Linked DNA regions of Homo sapiens: all the other regions are reported to be linked to region 5. Evidence: microRNA targets listed by miRTarBase, many of them from high-throughput screens and not tested one by one. Region 5 holds a microRNA gene; each other region holds the end of a gene's coding sequence.
The links. The annotated mature microRNA hsa-miR-15a-5p reads UAGCAGCACAUAAUGGUUUGUG and lies in region 5 at 1,732-1,753, opposite strand. An mRNA with a match to its seed (bases 2 to 7 or 8) in the 3' UTR can be bound and repressed. Matches are read on the target gene's strand: a 7mer-m8 pairs with bases 2 to 8, a 7mer-A1 pairs with bases 2 to 7 and ends in A, and an 8mer does both.

Region 1: miRTarBase lists NAB1 as a target of hsa-miR-15a-5p. The part of its 3' UTR that is shown has no 7-base or 8-base seed match.
Region 2: the mRNA of TMEM100 is a reported target of hsa-miR-15a-5p. Seed matches in the 3' UTR shown: 8mer at 1,867-1,874.
Region 3: miRTarBase lists PRSS21 as a target of hsa-miR-15a-5p. The part of its 3' UTR that is shown has no 7-base or 8-base seed match.
Region 4: the mRNA of ZNRF1 is a reported target of hsa-miR-15a-5p. Seed matches in the 3' UTR shown: 7mer-A1 at 533-539.
Region 6: the mRNA of PDHX is a reported target of hsa-miR-15a-5p. The part of its 3' UTR that is shown has no 7-base or 8-base seed match.
Region 7: the mRNA of LSM11 is a reported target of hsa-miR-15a-5p. Seed matches in the 3' UTR shown: 8mer at 2,467-2,474 and 7mer-m8 at 438-444.

What each region holds. Positions count from the first base shown.
Region 1 is chr2:190,689,795-190,692,891 of GRCh38, forward strand. It overlaps NAB1 (NGFI-A binding protein 1), which reads left to right. Exons shown (of 10, transcript NM_005966.4): 10 at 451-2,972. The coding sequence ends at 539. Among named protein-coding and RNA genes, the nearest start is that of NAB1, 42 kb to the left of the region's middle.
Region 2 is chr17:55,718,051-55,721,050 of GRCh38, forward strand. TMEM100 (transmembrane protein 100) reads right to left here. Exons shown (of 2, transcript NM_018286.3): 2 at 1,577-3,000. The coding sequence ends at 2,616. Among named protein-coding and RNA genes, the nearest start is that of TMEM100, 3.3 kb to the right of the region's middle.
Region 3 is chr16:2,820,946-2,824,042 of GRCh38, reverse strand. It overlaps PRSS21 (serine protease 21), which reads right to left. Exons shown (of 6, transcript NM_006799.4): 5 at 2,934-3,088; 6 at 2,324-2,677. The coding sequence ends at 2,438. It also overlaps the pseudogene EIF1P4. Among named protein-coding and RNA genes, the nearest start is that of PRSS21, 5.3 kb to the right of the region's middle. RefSeq lists an enhancer at 3,010-3,097.
Region 4 is chr16:75,106,254-75,109,350 of GRCh38, reverse strand. It overlaps ZNRF1 (zinc and ring finger 1), which reads right to left. Exons shown (of 5, transcript NM_032268.5): 4 at 2,780-2,869; 5 at 1-1,618. The coding sequence ends at 2,812. Among named protein-coding and RNA genes, the nearest start is that of LDHD, 9.0 kb to the left of the region's middle. RefSeq lists enhancers at 62-141, 172-321, 1,516-1,685.
Region 5 is chr13:50,047,436-50,050,532 of GRCh38, forward strand. MIR15A (microRNA 15a) reads right to left here and starts at 1,766; the gene lies at 1,684-1,766. It overlaps DLEU2 (deleted in lymphocytic leukemia 2), which reads right to left. Exons shown (of 14, transcript NR_152566.1): 6 at 2,149-2,227. MIR16-1 (microRNA 16-1) reads right to left here and starts at 1,626; the gene lies at 1,538-1,626.
Region 6 is chr11:34,994,571-34,997,667 of GRCh38, forward strand. PDHX (pyruvate dehydrogenase complex component X) reads left to right here. Exons shown (of 11, transcript NM_003477.3): 11 at 344-1,558. The coding sequence ends at 602. Among named protein-coding and RNA genes, the nearest start is that of MIR1343, 54 kb to the left of the region's middle.
Region 7 is chr5:157,754,687-157,757,783 of GRCh38, reverse strand. LSM11 (LSM11, U7 small nuclear RNA associated) reads right to left here. Exons shown (of 4, transcript NM_173491.4): 4 at 1-2,930. The coding sequence ends at 2,520. Among named protein-coding and RNA genes, the nearest start is that of LSM11, 13 kb to the right of the region's middle.

The DNA of each region.
Region 1 (3,097 bases), not on the chromosome of region 5:
ACCAGTAACAGTTATTTATGAATAATCAGCTTCCTTTTATATATTTATCATGTTGGATCAAGCATTAAATAAAAATTAATATATTCTATATGCTAAATGTTTTATGTGCATTTCATTATTTAACTTTCGTGCCACTTTATGTAGATACTATTCCTATTTTATAAATGAAGACATTAAGGCTTAGAGAGGTGTATAACTTGCCCAGAGATGTATACATCTATACATATATGTATACTATATGTATACATCTAGTAATTGGCAGAGTTGAAATTTAAATCCAGAATCCAAGCTCTTAACAGCTCTATGAACAAAAATTTTGCATGGAATTACAGAATCATGAATAGTTGATACTATTTGATATGGAGTTTGGGGGTTTGTTTTAAAACTTTGTTTGATTTTTGTAGTCCATTGATTAAAATATCAACTCACTTTGTTTCCATTTTTATGTAGAGAGCCTTGGGATTTTAAAAGACTACCCTCATTCAGCTTTTACCTTAGAAAAGAAAGTCATCAAAACAGAGCCTGAAGATTCAAGATAGCTGTGATTTCTCTCACCGTTCTCTGGAAATGGCATCAGATTTAAGGATAATACTCCATCATAGAAATAAGCCTTAATAACCAGTGTTGCCTCATTCAGCTCAAACAGATTTCATAGCCAAAGCAAAAGGACTGGTACGGTAGTCTGTGGAAACCAGGAAGATAAAACAACAGCCACAAAAGAGAAAATCAAGAGTGTTGCAATCTATAACAGTAATATTGATTCATTCACATTCCTGTGTTAAGTCATTTTATATGGAAAGGCTTACAAATCAATATTGTAAGCATTCATTATTTAAGAATGTACAATGTATTTGTGTAATTTATAGAAGTAAAATCTAGATGTTGAGACCTGTTTGGTCTAATAGATGTGGATACAGTTTATTTTACTTGAAATTTTGTTGTCTACTTTGTGTGTTTAACGTAAATATATGTCAGAGTTTAGAATCTGCCTGCAGTTGTGAAAAAGAAAGCTTAAGTGATGCAGTTATTGGCAAGATTGCAATGATTATGGAAAAATAGAAAGCGAATACTCAGTTTAAGCCAAGGAAAATATTGTGGATTTAATATTTGATAAAACTGATTTTGTTTAACAGGAAATTTTTAGCATTCAGTCATATAACATCTGGTTATCAATGCACGTTTACACAATAAATACTTGAGTGGAGGAAAGTTAAAAAGATGAGCAATAGAGTAGAAAATATATCTTAAACTAGTTGACCTAGATTGTATTAATAGCTACTTAAGATGTTTCAAAGATAGGAAGCTATTGCTTGGACAGAGAACTTGAAATAAGTGGACCCATGTATAAAAGCTTTGACTTAAACATTGATATTTCAGAATGTGTTAAATAGATTAAGACACAGTAAGTTAACCCTACATGTTATAAAGATGGCGACTGTTAACAAAGGCTGTAACAGATTAAGTACTATTTTATATCCAGAAAGTCTTCTCTATGTAGAGAAGTCAGAGAGACTAGATGCTTTCACTAGGGAATGTCTTCCCACCCAGCCATCACAAATGTGGACAATCACTGCATCCACATCTGTAGGCATATTTCTATGGAAGTTTAATTGACAGCTATATTCATTATTTATTTTACAATTTCATTTTTCTACACCTTTGAGATTTATGAATGCAGTTTTTTCTTAAAATTTATTTTAACTTGACAGTATGTTTTTAGTTCCCCCAATTTAATTAATGGACCATGTGCATATATATGGGAGTGTGCTTACATGTTAATAATTTACTTGCATACTTATGAGAATTTCACATTGGAATTCATAATGGTAAAACAACATACATCTGCCAATATACGTTTTTTCTGTTGGTTTAAGAGAAGATAACTGACAGCTTTACCTACTTCCTACAGATGCATCTAAACCCAGATATTACTGAGAAGAGTGTATTGACTCTGAGTGTAAGAGAGTATGTGTTTTTTTGTTTTTAGTTCTGCTCTAGATCATAATTGTAAAAAATATTAAGTCATAATCTGTTACACTAAAATTTGTCAGCCAAATGTTAGATGAAATGTCTGCACTGTAGTCTCAGATCACTGTCACGTATATAAATTGCTTCTTCATTTTAATTTGTAGAAGTACTTTACAGTAGGAAACGCCAGTAAACAACTTTTATACTGTTAAAAGGCTTTTTTCCCCTTCCTAAATGTTTTAATTGTACCATAGTGTTTTGCTCACTGAAGAAGCTTCTTATGGACCTTGCAACTTTGTTGCTAGCTTGAGGTTGATTATTGTGGTTGTATTGTTCACTGTGTGTAGAAATAGTATGAGTACGATTTCAATAGACTGTTCAGTTTTTAATATTAGCCATAGCACTGGTTAGTATATCTCAGTAGTTTCATGAAACGTTTCCTGTATTCTAATCTATTTTGAAACATTTTGTTTTTTTTTAATTGTGTCTTACAGTCAAGTTTGTAGATTTTCATAAGCCACAATTTTAAAAGATGCAGTAATCTTCCAACTTCCAATATTTATCCATTCGTTGTGGACCCACAGATTGCATCTTTAAATTCATAATAAGTTTCCTTAACTATCTTATGTTTCTAGTCTTTCAAGCTTAGTGATAAGGTGGAAGCACAAGAAAAATTTCAGTAGAATACAGTTTTTATTTTGTAAACACTAATGTATTAAACTTGCTATACATTAAAGCAAATAATATATATTTTTATTTGAATTGTATATGTGAATTGGAAGTTATAATTAGTTGATTTTTTCATTTTGTTAGAGGTATTTTCACTGAACAAGGTCAATTGGTTACCTCAGTATTACAGCCAATATAGTCCAAGGGACCATTTCTCCCCGAGTCTCTTACACTTTATTGTGCGATGTCCACGTTTTTGTGACTCTTCAAGCTGTTGGTGAGGTGGGACGAATGCACTTGCTTCCTGTGGCAATAAAGATTTTCTGTGCCTCACACATTTATGTTTATAGCATTTTCTACATAGAAGTTTTCCAGTGACTAATATTAACCCACTCTACCTCGCTTATCTGCTTATTTAAGCTGGGTTTCAGTATTAAGGGACAAGAACTTACGTCTTAGG
Region 2 (3,000 bases), not on the chromosome of region 5:
AGTGTGTAGAACTATCTCTGCGCCGTGCAGCTATGTAACAGTATATACCTTTTAATGTGACTAGAAGCTCCCTAAATGGAGCAAGTCTTTCCCGTACTAACAGAACCCCAAGATAGCCACTGTGAAGTGGCTTAGGGAAGTGTGTAAGGGTGGGATAAATGGAGAATCTCCACCAACTCCTCACGTTTAGGAGAGATTTGATCCCATTTTGGTTATTACAATTTAGGTCTTTCCATAGAACTGTTTCTTCTGGGACTCAAGTAGCTGCATGGGGCCCCCTGGTGGCCGGAAATAATTCATGAGTTTGCTTTTCAAGCATTTTGAAGGCCAGGTCAGGCTAGAGAAGAATAGAGAGTAAATATTCGCCTCCAACTGCTGCTTACAGTGGAGGTGTAATAGAGAGTGAGATGGCCTCTTTGGGGGAAAAATGAGAACTAAACTTTTTTCTTTAACGAGATTAGAATGGACTATAATTCTGGATAAACCATTCACTTTCTGATTTTTTATTTTTTGGCTCATTTAGCACCTTAATTAGGTACTTATTGAGTACTTAATCTCCGTAAGCCATTATGTTAGGCATTTCACTAGGGTTAAAAAGAGGATCTATCACACACTTCTAAGGAGCTTTGGAATAAGGATAAAACTTATGCCACCAACACGACAGAAAATAAAAGATGCCATCAGAGAATAAAAGATGAACTCACGAAAGGGCATTTACTTTCAGATAAAAGGGAAGACTTCCGGGAAGAGGTAGCATTTGAGCTGAGTGCTGATGAGAAGCAGGATTTGGGGAGATTAAAATCAAGGAAACAATGGCACTATAAGCGAGGGAAAACACAAGTTTGGACAGACATGGAGGCAGGAAAACCAAAGTCGGGTGCAAGAATGGTGAATAGTCTATTCTGGCTAACTCATAAGGAGGTTTGGGGATTAGAGTGAGTATGAAAACTGGATACGTCCTTTTGGATCAGACTGGAGAATCTTGAACCTTGTCTGAGTAATTTCTTAATACAGCAATGCGGTGGCGGGGTGGGGGGTGGGCTTTGAGTATCTTTGCACGGAGAAGAGGCATGTGAAGGCACAGACTCACTTGCATTGAAATGAGCACAGCCCCCTAAACTTGCATTTGGTTGGGAGGAATGTTGATCTGTACGTGACACCATCTGACCTGCAAAGTCATTTTTAGGGTGTTTCCACTTACCAAAACTACCTGAGCATGAGGGAGTAGTAAGGGCCCCAGGGCTCCTGTCATGTTTAATTAAATTTCTGGACAGAAAGACTTTCAATGAGTGTGCTATGCTAGGCTGATTTTGTTTTCCAAGTTTTAAGAAACCTTCATGCCTATCTTTCGATTCTAGCTTAAGGTGGTTTAAACTACATGAATGAGCTGTATTTCTGGCTGGAGTTACAGGGTAGAGTCCTAGCTGTGGACTAGCTCAATGTCCACTGAAGAATTCAAGCAGTAACTTTATTTGCATTGTATTAGATCTAACTGAGTAAGAAACCTGAGAATCTACATTATGCCTGGCATATAGTTGGTGCTGGCATACGTGTTAAGCAAATAATTAACAACTGATTCCACAAAAATGTAATATACATTTAATAGCACATTATAAAGTTCCTGACCAAAGACGTTGATTTCCTAATTATAATAGCACAGAAATCCTTTAGAATTTAGTAAACGTAATTAAGACTATTCAGAAGTAATGAAAAACCAATATGATAAAAACAAAAATCCTCCAGTAAAGAAGGAACCTGTCCATTTGAGAGAAATACAATTGAGAACTTGCAAATGAGACAAGGGAAGATGGCAATTTGGAACTGCAATAGAAATAACTATAGCAGAAACAACCATTTAAGAAGTTTTAGCAGCAATAAGTATTTATTATTCTGAATGAAATGTACAGTTGACTTTTATATAAAAATCATCAAAAGTGCTATATTGGATTATTTTACTATTAATTTAACCCCCAACAGCATCTATTAGCTATAACTTTAATGGGTTTTTCTTTACTTCTGATACATCATTACAACTGGCTAACACTGTCCAATGTTAAAATATAAAAAATATTACTTTTCAAGATAAAGTACCACCAGTGATGAGTTATTAAAAGTATAAAATGAAAACAGACGCCAGTGAATCAATGTATTGAAAAAAATTATCACAGAATTTCATAGACATATGCGAAACCCAAGGTAATTTAGATCCTTGGCAGAACATTTTTATGATACATCTTAAGACTGTAGGTTATTTCTTTTGGAGGCAAATGTCTAGTGTGCCAGGCCTATCTTGATTTTTCTCATCTTTTCTTGGCTACTTTACAGGGTGAACCAAATACTGTCTAATGCTGTGCACTCCCATGACCCCCAAAGTGTTTCATGTAAATAGAAAGCTGATTTTTCAGTCTCAGAAGTAGCCCTTAGGGTTAAGTTTGTCGTTAAAGAAGACATGAGTCATTCCTCACAAAGGAGAAGCCCCTCCACCCTCCCACCCCCATTCTTCCAGTCTGCTCCAACGCCAAGTCTGTTCTCTCCCACCATGGTTCTGGGTGAATTGGGTGACAAAGTCAGAGCACGTTTTCCAGGCCCAATGGCCCATTTGGTCGTATTCAGTCTCAAGCAAACAAGCTTCTCTGATTTGCCACGAGAGCTGTTTGACTCTCCCGTCTCTTGGCTTTCTTGCTCCTTTGTCTCACTTTCCAGCACAAGGCACTGGAGGCTAGTAAAAAAAGTCCAGATGACAGAACAACCAGGCCAAAGATGGAGATAATAGACCCATGGGAATTGAAGCTGTAAGCCACCGCGGTGACCACGATGCCGGCGATGAAGACAACCACAGCAAAGGGGATGATGCAGCGGTAGCAGGAGAGCTCGGTACCCCCTGTAGCAGCCATCAACTGAATCTCACTGACCAGAGGGACTGTGGTGATCACAACTTCACTCTTGGGGCTCTTCTCCATCGTCGCTGCCATGTGAGCCTTTGGGGCTCCCAGGATCTCC
Region 3 (3,097 bases), not on the chromosome of region 5:
AAACAAACGAAAAGCAAACAAAAAACTAGGCCAGGTATGGTGGTTCACGCCTGTAATCCTAGCACTTTGGGAGGCCGAGGCGGGTGGATCGAGAGGTCAGGAGTTTGAGACCAGCCTGGCCAACATAGTGAAACCCCGTCTCTACTAAAAATTACAAAAGTAGCTGGGCATGATGGCACTCCCAGCTACTCAGGAGGCTGAGGCAGGATAATTGCTTGAACCAGGGAGGCGGAGGTTGCAGTGAGCTGAGATCGTGCCATTGCACTCCAGCCTGGGTGACAGAGTGAGACTCTGTCTCAAAAAAAAAAAAAAAAAAAAAAAAGGATGACAGGCAAACTGGCTGAAAGCTATTGTAGCCATTAAGTAGCATTTCATGACTGGGTTGAAATAAAGCAGAAAACAGGGCCAACTCTATAAAAGGGACCACTAGTACAATTTGAACAAGTTGTGTTAGCGATATCGCCAAAGTTACCCACTAGGTGGAGTGAAGCATGTTTTTAGGTCCAGTTCTGTTAAGTTACCCAAAGCAGTTACTGGCTGTAAAATTTTAATTACACATTATCCTGTCAAGGGAGAAAGGTGCGCATTAAGAGAGGTAAGTGGACCACCATGATACGGAATCTCGTTTTGATGGTCTTGGGAAAAGCTGCAGTATGAAGCCGGCAATTTTGCAGTTAAAATGTCTCTGGTTATGGCCTTGGATGGTTGGTGAACTCTGTGCGGTCCACACATCAGGCACAATACTTGTCCCTTGATATTTATGTTAAGTTGTTTTGTTTTAGCTCGCAGGGCATTTATGAAAGAGCAGCTTCCAGTTTTAATAATTCCGTAGGAGAAAACTGGATTGGAGGAACTTAGAATTTAGGGTCCAATATAGTCTACAGGTAGATGATAAAACTGATCTATAAACAATTTAAATATGACATTCCAAAGCCTTCGTAATGTTACAGGATCTCTGGGGTGTTGTTTTTCTGGCTGGAAATCTGTGGCTGTTGGCGCCTTGGCCCGAGTTTTGCCCGTTTCCACTGAGGAAAAGGAGTCATCTCGTATGTCCACTGTCCAGAATCTCCACTCTTCCACCCCTTTGCTGATTTAAGTAAGAGTGATGACCTGCTCCCTGCAGGCACTGAGGAATACATCCATGCAAGGATTTAACAGAGAAATGACAGGAAAACCCTTAGCACTGTCTAAGCGATCACTAAGGATTACAATAAAAAGCAACTAGTGAAGGCATTTAAGAGGAAATTTCCCTGCAATGGGACGGTAATTGAGCATCCAGAATATGGAGAAGTCATTCAGCTACAGGGTGACCAGCGCAAGAACATATGCCAGTTCCTTGTAGAGGTGGGACTGGCTAAGGACGATCTGCTGATGGTTCAAGGGTTTTAACTACTTGTGGCTCACTGAAACTTAAGTGAGGATTTCCCTGTAATGAGTAGAATTTCCCTTCTTTCCCTTGTTACAAGTTTTAAAACCTCACAGTTTGTCTAATTTAACCATTTGAGGTCTGCTTTTAACTTGAACTAGTGTAATTCCTTTATGCAATAAACTGCAAAAATAAAAATAAAAAAATAAAAACATCGCTAAGGGAGGACCATGATTTTCGAACTTGGAGCCAGCTGGAGTCCCACAAGGGGAACCATTATTGCCTACTTTCTGGGTGCTCAGAGCCTCACCTCGGGGCTGCCCCAGCTCTGAGGCATCCCGTGCCCCAGAACTACTCTCAACATGGTGGGGGGAGTGGTCAAGAGAGAAACGCCCACCGTGGTGTCCTTGTCCTCAGTGGGCCAACGCTGAGGCCCCCACAGGATTGCACCCCAGTTGCCTAGAATGGTACCCTCTATGTTTGTGTAAGCTCATTGGTGTTCCTTCCTTCCCTGCCTCGGTTTCCCCATTTCCTGCAATCCCCTCCCAGATAAACTACCTGCACCTATGTCCTGGTCCTAGGTCAGCCTTGGGGGAACCATAGTAAGATCAGGATGTCTGGCGTTTCTGTGCCGGATCCTTGTGGGGTGAGGGATGTCAGGATTGTTTCCTCCAATGCACACACCCCCAATCCAGGCTTCCCAGCTCCTGGCACCCTGGAACTACTCCTGTTCCATTGCTGAGCATGATGTGCGTCTATAATTTCAGCTACTCAGGAGGGTGAGGCGGGAGGATCGAGACCACCCTAGGCGTTCAAGACCAGCCTGGGCAACACACAATTCTCTTTCTGATCGAAATAACCAGATGGTTCTATGGTGCAGAACAGATGTGGGTGTGAGCCAGGGGCACAGACAGGCTGTCTGCACAAGAGAGAATGAGCTGTCCATGAAGCCACTGCTTTTGAAGAATGCCCTGCAAGGCATCAACTGGAATGTGTTTATTACCAAACAAGACAGAAGAGAACCAGGGCCTGACTTGGCAGTGGCCCCAGGCTGCATGGGCTCAGGTAGGCTCAGACCGGCCCCAGGAGTGGGAGAGCCCAGAGAAGAGGGAAAAAGAGTAGCGGCCAGGAGGGGTCTGGCTGGGACATGCCACTCTGGGCCATCAGCTTCTGGATCCACTCAAAGTGGTGGCTGATATTGGTGTAGACACCGGGCCGATTGGGCCGACCACAGCCCACTCCCCAGCTCACGACTCCAATCTGATACCACAGTCCATTCTTGTTACAGGCCAAGGGTCCACCTGAGTCACCCTGGGGAGCAGCGGGGCTGAGGTCAGCCTGGGGCAGAGTGAGTGGGGCAGGGGAGGGGCTGAGAGTGGGAAGGGCTATGGGGCTGGGTAGACTGGGTGCACATCCTCCTCCTCCCCCTGGCAGCAGCCAAGCCTCCGTTTCTGCATCTGCAGAGTGGGGCAACAGTCTCCACCTCCCGGGGTTGGCATGAGGGTCAAATAAGGCACAGGGACACAGGATGCTTTCCTGGGCTGGGAGTGGTGGCAAGGACACTCACGAAGCAGGCATCCTTCCCGCCTTGGGCATTGCCAGCACAAACCATGTCTCCAAAGATGTCCTTGCGGAAACTGTACTTGAGGAAGAGGTGGTTGCACATAGAGTTGTTTATGATGGCGACCTGAACTTCCTGGAGGGTGTGGGGAGATGGCAGTGCTGTGCGGA
Region 4 (3,097 bases), not on the chromosome of region 5:
TCCTTCGCTGGCTCTGCAGGAGGCTCTGGAATGCTGCTCCGGGAGCCCGCTGGGCACGGGGACACAGGCCAGGCCTGCACTGCTGCTCCCTGCCCCGAGCTGCCTGCCCAGCCCGCATTTTGCCAACTTTTGTGAGCCTGAGCAGTTGGTTCTGGTTCAAGGGCTCTGAGCTGGCACAGCCCCAAACCAGGGCCTCTTCCTGGGCCTCAATGAAGCATGCCCGTGAGTCAGCACTGAGACGCAAACTGAACAACAGGCAGGGCGAGTGGAACGTGGGATGGGGAGCAAAGGCTGGAAGGAGGGGGGCTGGGCCCACACCTGGAAGAACCCACATCCTTGCAGCCTCCGGTGGCTGCAACATCTTGGCCCCTGCAGATCTTTTCAGAGGTCCAGCACAATGACTCCACAGAGGGCTGACTGGTTCCATGATGCTTAAGAGGTTAGGAAGCTTGTAGGAGGCACGCCTGACTTGCCACTCCCTCCACCCAGGCCTGACTATCTGAGGACCAATTCACACACCTGGAGCCCCGAGTAGCAGCCTGAAGGAATGCTAAGGAGGTAGGTGAGGGAGTGGGGGGCAGGCCCTTGCCCCCATTTCTTGATTGTATAACACTTCATTAAAATAAAATCACGCAGTGCCATCTTTTATTAGACATTTTAATACCATATCAAAACACCTTGACTAATGAAGAAAGCTTTTCTCCCAAGCTTTGAACATTTTTTTAAACATTTTATAAGTTTTTTTTTGTATTTTAATATATAAATACAGAAACCTATCTTGCATGGGCTGATGCCACGTGTGAACATCAATGGCTAAAATGTTCTCAAACATAGTGCCTGAAAACAGGGGTAGCTGTACATATTTCTTAGTAAGTCTTTTTTTGTTTAAGTTTTCTGAAAAAAAAAATCCACGAGGGCCTAAGAATAATGTTCAGGCATTTTTGCAGGACACTTGTGATTGTTAAATCCTCTGAACTGACCGGAACCAGGAGGAAAGAAGGGAAAAGAGATGGGATCAGTAGGAAGAAAGTTCTCAATGGGTTGTTTTTTGGCAATGAAGTCAAGATATTAGGGTCTCAAGGGGAGAAAAGAGCAAAAAACCAGCCAGAAAAATAGAGGGAAAAAACCAAACAAACCCAAAGTAGAGAAGTTGGTGGTGGAGAGGGCCAGTTGGGGCAGGGGAAGAGACCGTGTGCTCGCCCGCCGTCAGAAGGCTGGCAGCGAGGCCTTAGCTGTGTTCGTCTGTCACTGAGTGGGTTATGGCTGGGCAGCAAACAGCAAGCTGTAAACATCACGAGGGAAAACACCAGTCGACACTAGACTTTTTTTTTATATAATTTTTTTTTGTAAACACTTTAAAGACAGACCCACAATGCCTTTCAAAGATGAAAAAGAAAATGCCCTTTCCCTCCTGGGCTGAGGGGTGAGGGGAAGGATAGCAGTTGATTCATTCTTCTCTCAAACTTGCTCTCATCCAATTTGGTGTCCTCAGGGAGGAAGGGAGAACCATGATCTGGAAGTCAGTGCAGAAGGGGTGCCCTGTTCCCGCTGGTGTCCCAAGCTCAGCTCTGCCCCAGGGTCCGGTGAGCCTCCTCCCTGGAGCAGGGGCGCTCTGTCCCTGTGTGGACCGTAATAAATAAGTCGTGCTCCATCGGGCCGAGGGCTGTCTGCTCATCCCAGGGCAGCTGCATCCCAAGAGGGCAGGCGGGGCTGGGGCGTCTACACAGGACCCCAGAAGCCAAACAGCACACGGGGAATTTGCAGCCATGTGCCTGGGCAGGTTCTACTCCCCTGCCTCACTCTCCCCCCTGGCTCTTTCTTCTCCCCTTGTCATCAGTTTTTGAGGTGGAGGTAAAAAGAGCAAATGTCCCTGATTTGTCTGACATCATCAGCTGTTCTGGGAGTTTACTTGGAATAAATAAAATAAACCTAACAAAAGAAAACGAAAGCAAGAGAGAGAGAAAGGGAGGGGGGAAGAAAAAGGTCCCAAAACCTTTGGCTGTGAGATGGAGTTGGGCTTTTGGTTTTTATGGGGGTTTTGTCTACTTGTTTGCCAGAAAAAGGAAAATGCCAGCCCAGAACTTGGAGGGGACAGGTGAGATGGGGGTCAGGGGTGGATGGTTGGCAGCAAGTGGGGTACCCCTGGGGGAGAAATGGGGAGGCCAGACCCAGCGGTAAGCCAGGGGGATGTGTGGAGTCAGCACCCAGTGCTGTGGGATAGAGGGATCGAGTCTGGCCTGGAGGCCTCAGATTCATCTGGAAGCGGCATGGGAAGAAGCAGTGGTCAAATGATCGCTGACCAGCACTTTGCAGGGAACAATGCACTGCCCATGGCTGTTTAGTAAGTGCAATGTCCTTATGGCAACAGGGAGTGAGATTATCCCCGTTACCATAGAAGAGGCGGAGACTCAGAGGTGAGCGAGGATGAGGCCAAGCCAGGCACAAACCCACCGCTCAGGCTCCTTTTCCTGCCCGTGCACATTCCCAGGGGATATTCCTGAACTTTCTTTAGGAATGTAGATTGTACTGGTCTCTTCCCCAACTGATCCTAACTCTTCTGAGCCTGTTCTTCATAACTGTCCATGTTGGTTTGTATCTCTTGTCCTTCCCAGGGAAAATCATTTCCGGATGACTAACTGCTCACTGATGAGGTGCTCCTTCCCTCTGCTCCTGCTTTCTTCTCAGTGGCATAAGGGCAGCCCGGCTCCCTAAACTGCAGGCCCCCAAAGTGACCTGACCCCAAGCCTTGAGCCCGGAGCACCCCCAAACGCGGGCTCACCTTTGAGAGGAGTCAGCAAGCAAGCCCGCAGGTCAGTCCGCAGGGTGTTCCGGACAAGATCTGTTCACTTCAAACCACGAGTCTATGCAGCTGGGAGGAGGGGGCCGCAAGGGAAACCACGTTACCTGCTGCCCAGGCTGCTTTGAAGGGGCTCTTTCAGAGGGCCAGATTCCTGAGCAGGAGCTTCCTAAGTCTCTTCTGAAAGGACCCCAGGGAAACACAGTCATGTCCCCAGATATCCCTACTTTCTGAAGCACGAAGAAGGGTGAACACCAAGACTAGTCTTGGCCCAGGTGGAGGCAGCAGTACCGGCTCAGG
Region 5 (3,097 bases):
GGCAGCATAGTGAGACCCTGTCTCTATTTTTATTTATTTATTTAGTTTTAATTTTTACATTTTAATTTATTTTTTTGAGATGGAGTTTCACTCTTGTTGTCCAGGCTGGATTGCAATGGCGCGATCTGGGCTCATTACAACCTCCGCCTCCCCGGTTCAAACAATTCTCCTGCTTTAGTCTCCCGAGTAGCTGGGACTACAGGCATGTGCCACCACGCCCGGCTAATTTTTTGTATTTTTAGTAGAGATGGGGTTTCACCATGTCGGTCAGGTTGGTCTCGAACTCCTGACCTCACGTCATCCACCCTCCTCGGCCTCCCAAAGTGCTGGGATTACAGGCTTGAGCCACTGTGCCCAGCTCTACTTTTCTTTTCTTTTTTTTTTTTTGTTGAGACAGAGTCTCCCTCTGTCACCCAGGCTGGAGTGCAGTGGTGCGATCTCAGCTCACTGGAAGCTCCGCCTCCCAGGTTCATGCCATTCTCCTGCCTCAGCCTCCCGAGTAGCTGGGACTACAGGCGCCCGCCACCACGCCTGGCTATTTTTTTTGTATTTTTAATAGAGATGGGGTTTCACCGTGTTAGCCAGGATGGTCTTGATCTCCTGACCTGGTGATCCGCCTGCCTCGGCTTCCCAAAGTGCGTGAGCCACCGCACCTGGCTGTCTACTTTTATTTTTAATAAAAAATTTTAAAAATACAAAAAAGTAAAAAAAAAAATTAAATTATGTTGACATTTTATATCAATAAAACTACAATGATAATTTGGTCTTACTCTGAGTTAAATCTTGAATACAAAAAAGTAAACAAAGTAAACAAGACCTTATTTTTGACTTATCAAACAAAAATCTTTGGCTAAGGATTTAAGAAAACATTTTAATAAAAACATGAAAAAAATAGTATACCATTATAAAGTTAGAAGACATAAGACTAAGACCCCAATCTGTGATGTGTAGCAAATTATTTGAGTTTTGTGTTTCCTTAGCTATCCAATGAGTGGGTTGGTCACTTGTAAGGGTTTTTCTACCTTTAAAGTTATGGTTAAGTGTGACGTTTTGACAACCAGAATTTTAGGTATTTAATTCACATATTTTGATGGCTTTTCCCCTTCAGATATAAAGAAATATTCAGAAACAGTACTAAATATTGTCTTCTAAGCTCTGTTCAAAATGCTTAATATATTTTATATTTATCTGTAAAGACATATTTTAAAAGTAATTTCAAAACAAAGGGAAAACTAGAATTTGTTTTATCCCAAGTAAAAATCTGAATTAATGTCTATGTTGAATATAAATGTGCATTAAAATAAATTCCTCTAATGCTGCATAAGCTTTTTAAAAAAACTTGATGGCATTCAATACAATTATTAAATTGCAATTACAGTATTTTAAGAGATGATACATCTGAAAAATTAGTATTAATTCATTTTTACAGAATCATACTAAAAATAACAAGATTATCAATAATACTGAAAAGACTATCAATAAAACTGAAAACACATTAGTAACATTAATATACATTAAAACACAACTGTAGAGTATGGTCAACCTTACTTCAGCAGCACAGTTAATACTGGAGATAATTTTAGAATCTTAACGCCAATATTTACGTGCTGCTAAGGCACTGCTGACATTGCTATCATAAGAGCTATGAATAAAAAGAAATATATTTTCTTCAGAAGATCAGATCCTTGTATTTTTGAGGCAGCACAATATGGCCTGCACCTTTTCAAAATCCACAAACCATTATGTGCTGCTACTTTACTCCAAGGTTTTATTTTTTTTAAACACACATTCGCGCCTAAAGAATATAAAAAATATTTTCTTTCAGGAAAAAAAGAATGCATGTAAAAAAATCTATGTTTAAACATTATAACATTGATGTAATATGCATAATTATTTTTAAGGAGATTTTAAGTAGAATAATAAAACATTTCTACATCAAAAACTTAACTGAAGTCCATTCTGTGCCCAGCACAGTGCTATAGGTTAGGAAACACAAAGAATAAAATGAGGAAAAGAAAAGCATTTATTTGCTATGCCAACTTAACAGGGCAATACAACTAAATGCTTAAACTTTTGAATATATTCAATATATGAAGTTATTTTTCCTTGTATAAACAAACAAGTAAATTTATAAAATTTGATCTTTACCTTGGTAAAAGGAGAATTTACAAACATTTTGTTCCTTGCAGTACACCTTTCAAAAGACATCTTCATCAAATAGGTAAGACTTCACATCAAGGGAAAAACATGAAATGACATACAAGAGCTCAGTTTCAATAAACTTAAGCTAGCAAAATGCAAATATACTTTTAAAGAAAAATACTTTAATTCTAAATGTTAATTTTATTAAATATCTAATTAAGACATTTTAATTCCAAATATAGTTAAGAAAAAAAGCTCTAAACAAACTAATTCTCCCTTAAATAATTTGTTATTAATAATCTAAATATTTTACTTTCAACATTGATCTTCATACTAGAAGTTCTCTTAGAGTTGGATATCATTTGATACAGTAATTCTAAAATATGAATCCTTAAGTAATTCTAAAATATGAATCCTTGGGATGATGAGTTAATTTGGTACCCTGAGATGAGAAATAAAACAAATCCCATAGCTCTTAATCTTCCTATTCCCTGTTTCTGGCCCATTTACCAGGTAAGGAAGAAACTCCTAGTTTCCACTTTCTCAGATGTAGAAATGAAATTCCTTTTCTCTAAAAGATATCAGAAAATTGCCACCACTCTAGTGGTGCCACCATTCAAGCCTGGACAATCTTTTTTGCCCCATGTTCTCATCATTAAAATGACTATGCTAAAGTTACATCTATTACAGAATAGTAAGGTGATGTACACAACCAAAGCACTAAAATTTGCTCTTCCATTCTAATATCTAATTACTTATACAAAGCACAGGGTCACATTCCATATGAAATTTTTCTGAGTATTTTTCCCATTAATAAAAAATATATGTAGCTAATCTCCTATCTAAGCAACCTGGATTTCACATATAACTCTGCTCCTTATTGTCTCAAGTTTCTGCACAACGTTTTTTAAATTTTTATTTTTTCTTTTTTTAAGAGAGTAGTTTCCGTATCTTT
Region 6 (3,097 bases), not on the chromosome of region 5:
AGAAATTCCTGAGCTCCATTATAATCTTATAAGACCACCGTTGTATATGTGATCCTTCGTTATGTGGGACATGACTCGATATAAAATGGATTGTTATATTGACCTTTTATCTGATGACTTAACTAAATTTACTTATTAATTTTACTAGTTATCTATAGTCTCATTTTTCCTGTGTACACAATTAATTTATTTGTAAATACTAAATGTTTCCTTTTTTCATTACTCATATATTTTTTTCTTGCCTTACTACACTGCCTAGTAAAATATATAAAATATGTGCTTCACGGAAAGGGGACTTTGATTAAGGACATGCCTCCTTCAGAGCTTTTTCTTTTCCCCCTAGTATTTCCAACTTGGGGATGTTTGGCATCGACGAATTTACTGCAGTGATTAACCCTCCTCAGGCCTGCATTTTGGCGGTTGGGAGGTTCCGACCTGTGCTGAAGCTCACTGAGGATGAAGAGGGAAATGCCAAACTGCAGCAGCGCCAGCTCATAACAGTCACAATGTCAAGTGACAGTCGAGTGGTTGATGACGAACTGGCAACCAGGTTTCTTAAAAGTTTTAAAGCAAACCTAGAGAATCCTATCCGACTTGCCTAGTCCTCAAAGATAAGAAGTTGGTGTTCAGCTTAGTTGATTCAGTAGTTGTTACCAAGAAACATATGTTATAGGAAAACAACTTGGTATTTAAGTATGAAGTGGATGAAATGTTTATTTATTTAAGGTGAAAGCATTTGACCCAGGGTGTCTTCATCTTCAATTTGGGTTTAATGTTATAGAAATAAATGATGATAAACTCTAACTAATAAAGGAAAGAGAATATTTGGTTACTCAGATCCATTTTTAACCTCTGGTGCTGTATAAAGGGAATATTAAACTAGATGTAAATCAAAGTATATGTTTGGCTCATTTGAGCATTTTGGAATATTTGAGAATGTATGATACATGTAAAATTAAAAAAACTATTAGAACTGTACCATAATTATGTTGAAGGTAGAAGTGATCTTCAAAGAGATGGCCATTAACTTAGCAGTGGGACCTCACTTTTACAAGCACTGCTCTAGATATACTTGAAGAATTTAATAGGTACAGAAGTTTATTCTGGATAATAAATAAATAAGGATCACACTGTATTAGGGGTTATGGCAACATTATTGAATTTTTTATGTACATAAAGCCATATGTTTAGGGTGGTTTCTATCTGTCTTGTTTTTCACTTATATAACACTGTGAACTTCTAAAGCAAGAGGATAAAAGAAGCATGAATGAAAAGAATGACATTTCAAAAAAATGGTTCAATGAAAAACTATAGCTAAAATATGTAAACCTTTCTAGGTAAACCGCTTGCCTTCATCTTGAGTCGGAATATATTTAAATAAATTGTGTTATCTCTTGCCAAACATTTTGTTAGTGTTTATTTAAAAACAAAATGTTGTTTCTTAATGCATTTAAATCAGTTTTGTATTGTGCAGTAAAATGTGAGAAAATATAAACATTTCTATTGTATTTTAAATGTTAAAACACAAAAGTTCAATAAACCTTGAAGTTGATTAGTAGTTTTTCTAGAACACCTTTAAAAGGGCTCTACAGGAGAAAAGACGGAATTTAAAATTAGTATGACATTAGGAAAGTAACTGATAGGAAATGTAAAACTTTGGAAAGAGAATAGAAGACTTATGAAGCCAAACAGATGAGAACTATCCTTTTTATTTCACTAATATGAAATTTTCACTAATTATTATAAAGTTTAGAAGAGTTTGTTTCTCTCTTTTGGCAGCTCTGCTATAACTGTCAAGATAACTATATTTAAGTTGGATGGTAATGAATGGTAATTTAATTAACTTGTCACAAAAAGGTTTATGTTAGTGTCAGCTGACATGAATCAATAGAAGAAAGGCTAATATAGTACAAGTTGTATGGTATGACATGATGAATTATAAACCCTAACAGAAGAGCCTTCTAAAATAATTAGCACCCTGGTGTATTAATTGTTAAGAAAATGCTTAATCCAACTATCCAACTCAGTTTAACAAGCCATTTAAAAAAAATAGTCTTCAAAACTTTTGTCATATTAACAGTTACACTGAAAATTATAACCAAAGGCTATTTTCAAAATAATTTTTATGTTACATTATTTCCAAGGTCAGTTTTAATCGAAATTATTATTATTATTACTACTTTTTCTTGAGATGGGGTCTTGCTCTGTGGCCCAGGCTGTAGTGCAGTGCTGGGATCACAGATCACTGCAACCTCGACCTCCTAGGCTCAAGTGATCCTCCTCCCTCAGCCTCCCGAGTAGCTAAGGACTAAAGGCATGCACCATCATGCCTGGCTAATTTTTCTATTTTTTTTTTTTAGAGACAGGGTCTTGCCATGTTGCTCAGGCTGGTCCCAAACTCCTGGGCTCAAGTAGTCGACCCACCTTGGCCTCGCAAAGTGCTGGGATTACACAGGCATGAGCTACTGTGCTAGGCCGTTGTTTTTGTTGTGGTTGTTGTTTGTTTGTTCATTTTAATTTTTATATCTGAGGAACAGAACATGATGAGGCAGCCATAAATAAGCCTGACTCAGAGTTCTGCTTTTCATGAACTGACGTACATAAGCAGTAGTGCATCTGTTTCCCTATAGGTGAAATGGGCATTAATATTTACTCAGCCTGCCTTAGAGAGTTGAACTGTACAAGGGAAATCGCTGTATAAATTTAAGATGTTTTAATTCATGGACCTCACAACCAGGCTTTTCATATAATCACCTGCCTCTCATGGTTTGACTTCTCAGCTTCTGGTACAAATGCTTGTTCATTCTGACCAAAAATATTGTCTCTGGTATTTCTATACTGATGAGGTGGTTTAGATTAAGGAAGTTTTCATTTCTAAAAAGAATTTTGTTGTAGTTTGAGATCAAAGAATAACACTGAGAAAGGAGTATGGTATACTTGGTTTGAACTGTGTGCTACACTACCAGGCCCCTTCCACATTATACTACTAATTTATTTAAAATAGATAGGTATCACACTGAGAGGATATAAAAAAAATTTCTGCCTCTTCATTTTTGTTTCTTGTTTGAACAGAAAAAATGACCAAAATATTGGGAGT
Region 7 (3,097 bases), not on the chromosome of region 5:
TTCCAAATTTCTACCTTATTGGGAAAGTAGAGTACATCATTCTAGCCGAGGGATGAGAGGGCAGGCAGATGAGGATAGCCACACAGGTATACGCAGTGTTGCCTGATGATTAAACCTGACAACTATTTTGGGAACTGAGATTTCAGATACACTATTTAGAATTTAGACTGGCAGCTTCCAAAGATTACTGTTCACTTGAGTTTGTAAACTGGAACCTCTATAAACTTTAGTGCACCTGATCTGGCTCTAGAGTACACTTTACAATGCATTTAAAAATAAAAACAAACAAACAACAAACTTCCACAGATTGCCCTTTCGGGATGTGTCATTTTTAGATGCTCATTCTCCATTTGGTGCTACCATATAAACCCCTTGAAAAGTTCAGGGGATTCTTTCTGATAATGATCAGAAAAGGGTGAGGCCTGGGATATAGCGGGAGCAGCAAAAAAAAAGTTACTCTCCTCTTACTGAAGATACTCTTCTGAGAACTTCCATTGTCCCTTAGGAGGAAGGAATGGAATATGGAAGTTCCAGAAGATACTGCTGCCTTCCGAAGATAGTTACAACAGGATCATAACTATGAACCCTAAGATTACTTTTTTTTTTTTTCCTTTTTTTGAGACAGAGTCTTGCTCTGTCGCCCAGGCTGGAGTACAGTGGTGCAATCTTGGCTCACTGCAAGCTCCGCCTCCCGGGTTCACCCCATTCTCCTGCCTCAGCCACCCACGTAGCTGGGACTACAGGCGCCCGCCACCACGCCCGGCTAATTTTTGTATTTTTAGTAGAGACAGGGTTTCACCGTGTTAGCCAGGATGGTCTTGATCTCCTGACCTTGTGATCCACCCGCCTCAGCCTCCCAAAGTGCTGGGATTACAGGCGTGAGCCACCGTGCCTGGCTGAGATTACTTTTTTATGTAGCACCTGCCTTGCTTCTGTGTCTTATAAAGACACAGAATTCTTACAAAGCTATGAAACAGAGTCAGGAAAAATTACTCATGGCACTTAAAGATGTTTAGAGACTGTAAAATGCCTTCATTTTTTTTTTCTCAATGCCCCTGTGAGGTAGGTGTCTGTGGGGAAAAAGCTGAGGCACGGAGGGGTTAAGTCTGCTCACCTTTTCATTGCATGATGAGCCAGTGGTCCAGCTAGCAGGACCAGGTGTCCCAGCTCCCTAAACTTTATTCACCCTGCTTCTCAGAAGGCTTATTTATGTTACACAACAAATACAGCAGGGGAAAGTTTTCTTTTCATACATTTTAACTAGTTGGCTATTTCTTATTCTCACCTTGAACATAAGTTATCTCAGATAAAACCAAATAAAAACAAAACAAAAAAATCAATATTGCCTAACAGTCTGTGTCAAATGCAGCCTATTCTGCACTAGTGATTGAAAAAGCACAGAATATGATTCAAGTAGAAGTATTTGTGGGTGCTATGGTGTTCCTGTTGACTCAAGCCAGGCTGTGAGTAAAGTGTCGCTTTAGACACTACCCACTGTACTTTGTAAGAACTTCTTTGGCCTGACACAAGGGAATAAATCTACCACCCCTGTTTCATGGTGAAACCATATTCTGAAAGATATTCTACACATGCTGGCCCTGCCTGGAAAGGGGACTCTCAGCCGTGTGATGTGTATTACCGAGTTCATGCACAACTCTTTGAAGCTGGACATGAAGGTCACAGTCTCCTGACATAAAGCTCACAGGACAGTTCACACTACGGACAGAGGGGCAATACCACAGGGTACATGCACTAGCACCATGCCACAGAAGTCAAAGAGAAGGACAAGAAGCCACCACACAAGCATCTTAGAGTCCCATCTGGTATGCCATTTGCAGAGGCTACCTCTGGTAAGGGGAAGACTGAAGAGGTCCTGTACTCCTTTCCATAATAAGAAGAAGGATCAAAACAGAGCACTCATTGCTGGCTGCTTTGAGCATACCGCCTATCCAAATTTCACCCCTACATAAGTTGGTAACTTTCCTTGTAGATATTCAAAGATAATATATGTCATTTCTTCATCAAGAGAGAATCATGTCAGGCAAAATTCAAAAGTTAGTTACAAGACGTGGATGCAGGGCTCCAAGGCAATTTACACCACTACTCTTGGAATCGAATTCATGAGTACTCAGGGCACTAGCTTTTAGACATGCAATACTTCTTTTTGAGACTTTTCTTTCCCCTATAGTATCTAAAATGTAAATTCCACTCATATCATGACCCCTAAGTCTAATGGAAGATCAGATATTTGGTTTCAGGGTCTGAAGTAAATCACAATACCAAATCAGATGCATGTATCTATGAATGCTTTTTGCCTTGATATTAATGCAAACGCCTGCCCTCCCAAGGCCTGTCCTCCCCTTGAGCTCATCTTCCAGGGGGCTGAGCCTGCTCCGTCCTCTGCATATGCAGGACCAGAGGGAATCATTCCAACTCAGAGTTTCACTGGGATACTAGGATACAGCATAGCAGCAATTCATGCACTTTATTTCTAAAAACCAAAGCTCAGGCTGAGCTGGTCACTGTGCAAGATGAACCAGCAGGACATTCTCGCCTCGAATGAAAATCTGATTTATGTGTCGAGTGAATACCTGCTGGTAATCCACTTTGGGCTTTCGCTTTTTCTTACGGGACTGGCCTCTGGAAAGGGTGGTAGCCCTGGAAAAGGTACCTCCCACACTGGAGCCGTCTGTCCGTGTAGTCCTCCCTGACAGCTCTGACCTGGACTCCTCCCTTGCAGAGGCCTGCAGGGAAGAAGGGACAGAGCGGGAACGCTTGTGTGAGCCCCGGCCAGTGTCTGCTCTTCCCCACACTGAAGCCAACTTCCAAGTGGATGTCTGTGAGTATCTAGACAGAGTGGAATCTTCAACTGCAGACTTAGAATCTGCTTCCTTCTTGGAGGAATCTTGAAGTTTCAGCCGATCAAATAGCTATAAAGCAAACAATGATAAATATTAGCCTTCTCTTTAGCCTTCATCACCCTCTTTCAACATACAGAAAAAGACCAAATTCTTTAATTATGTTCTGTGGACTCCTTGCTTTGCAATTTTTTAAAAGTTAGTAATAAATCTTTTTTTTTTTTTTTTTTTTTGGAGAC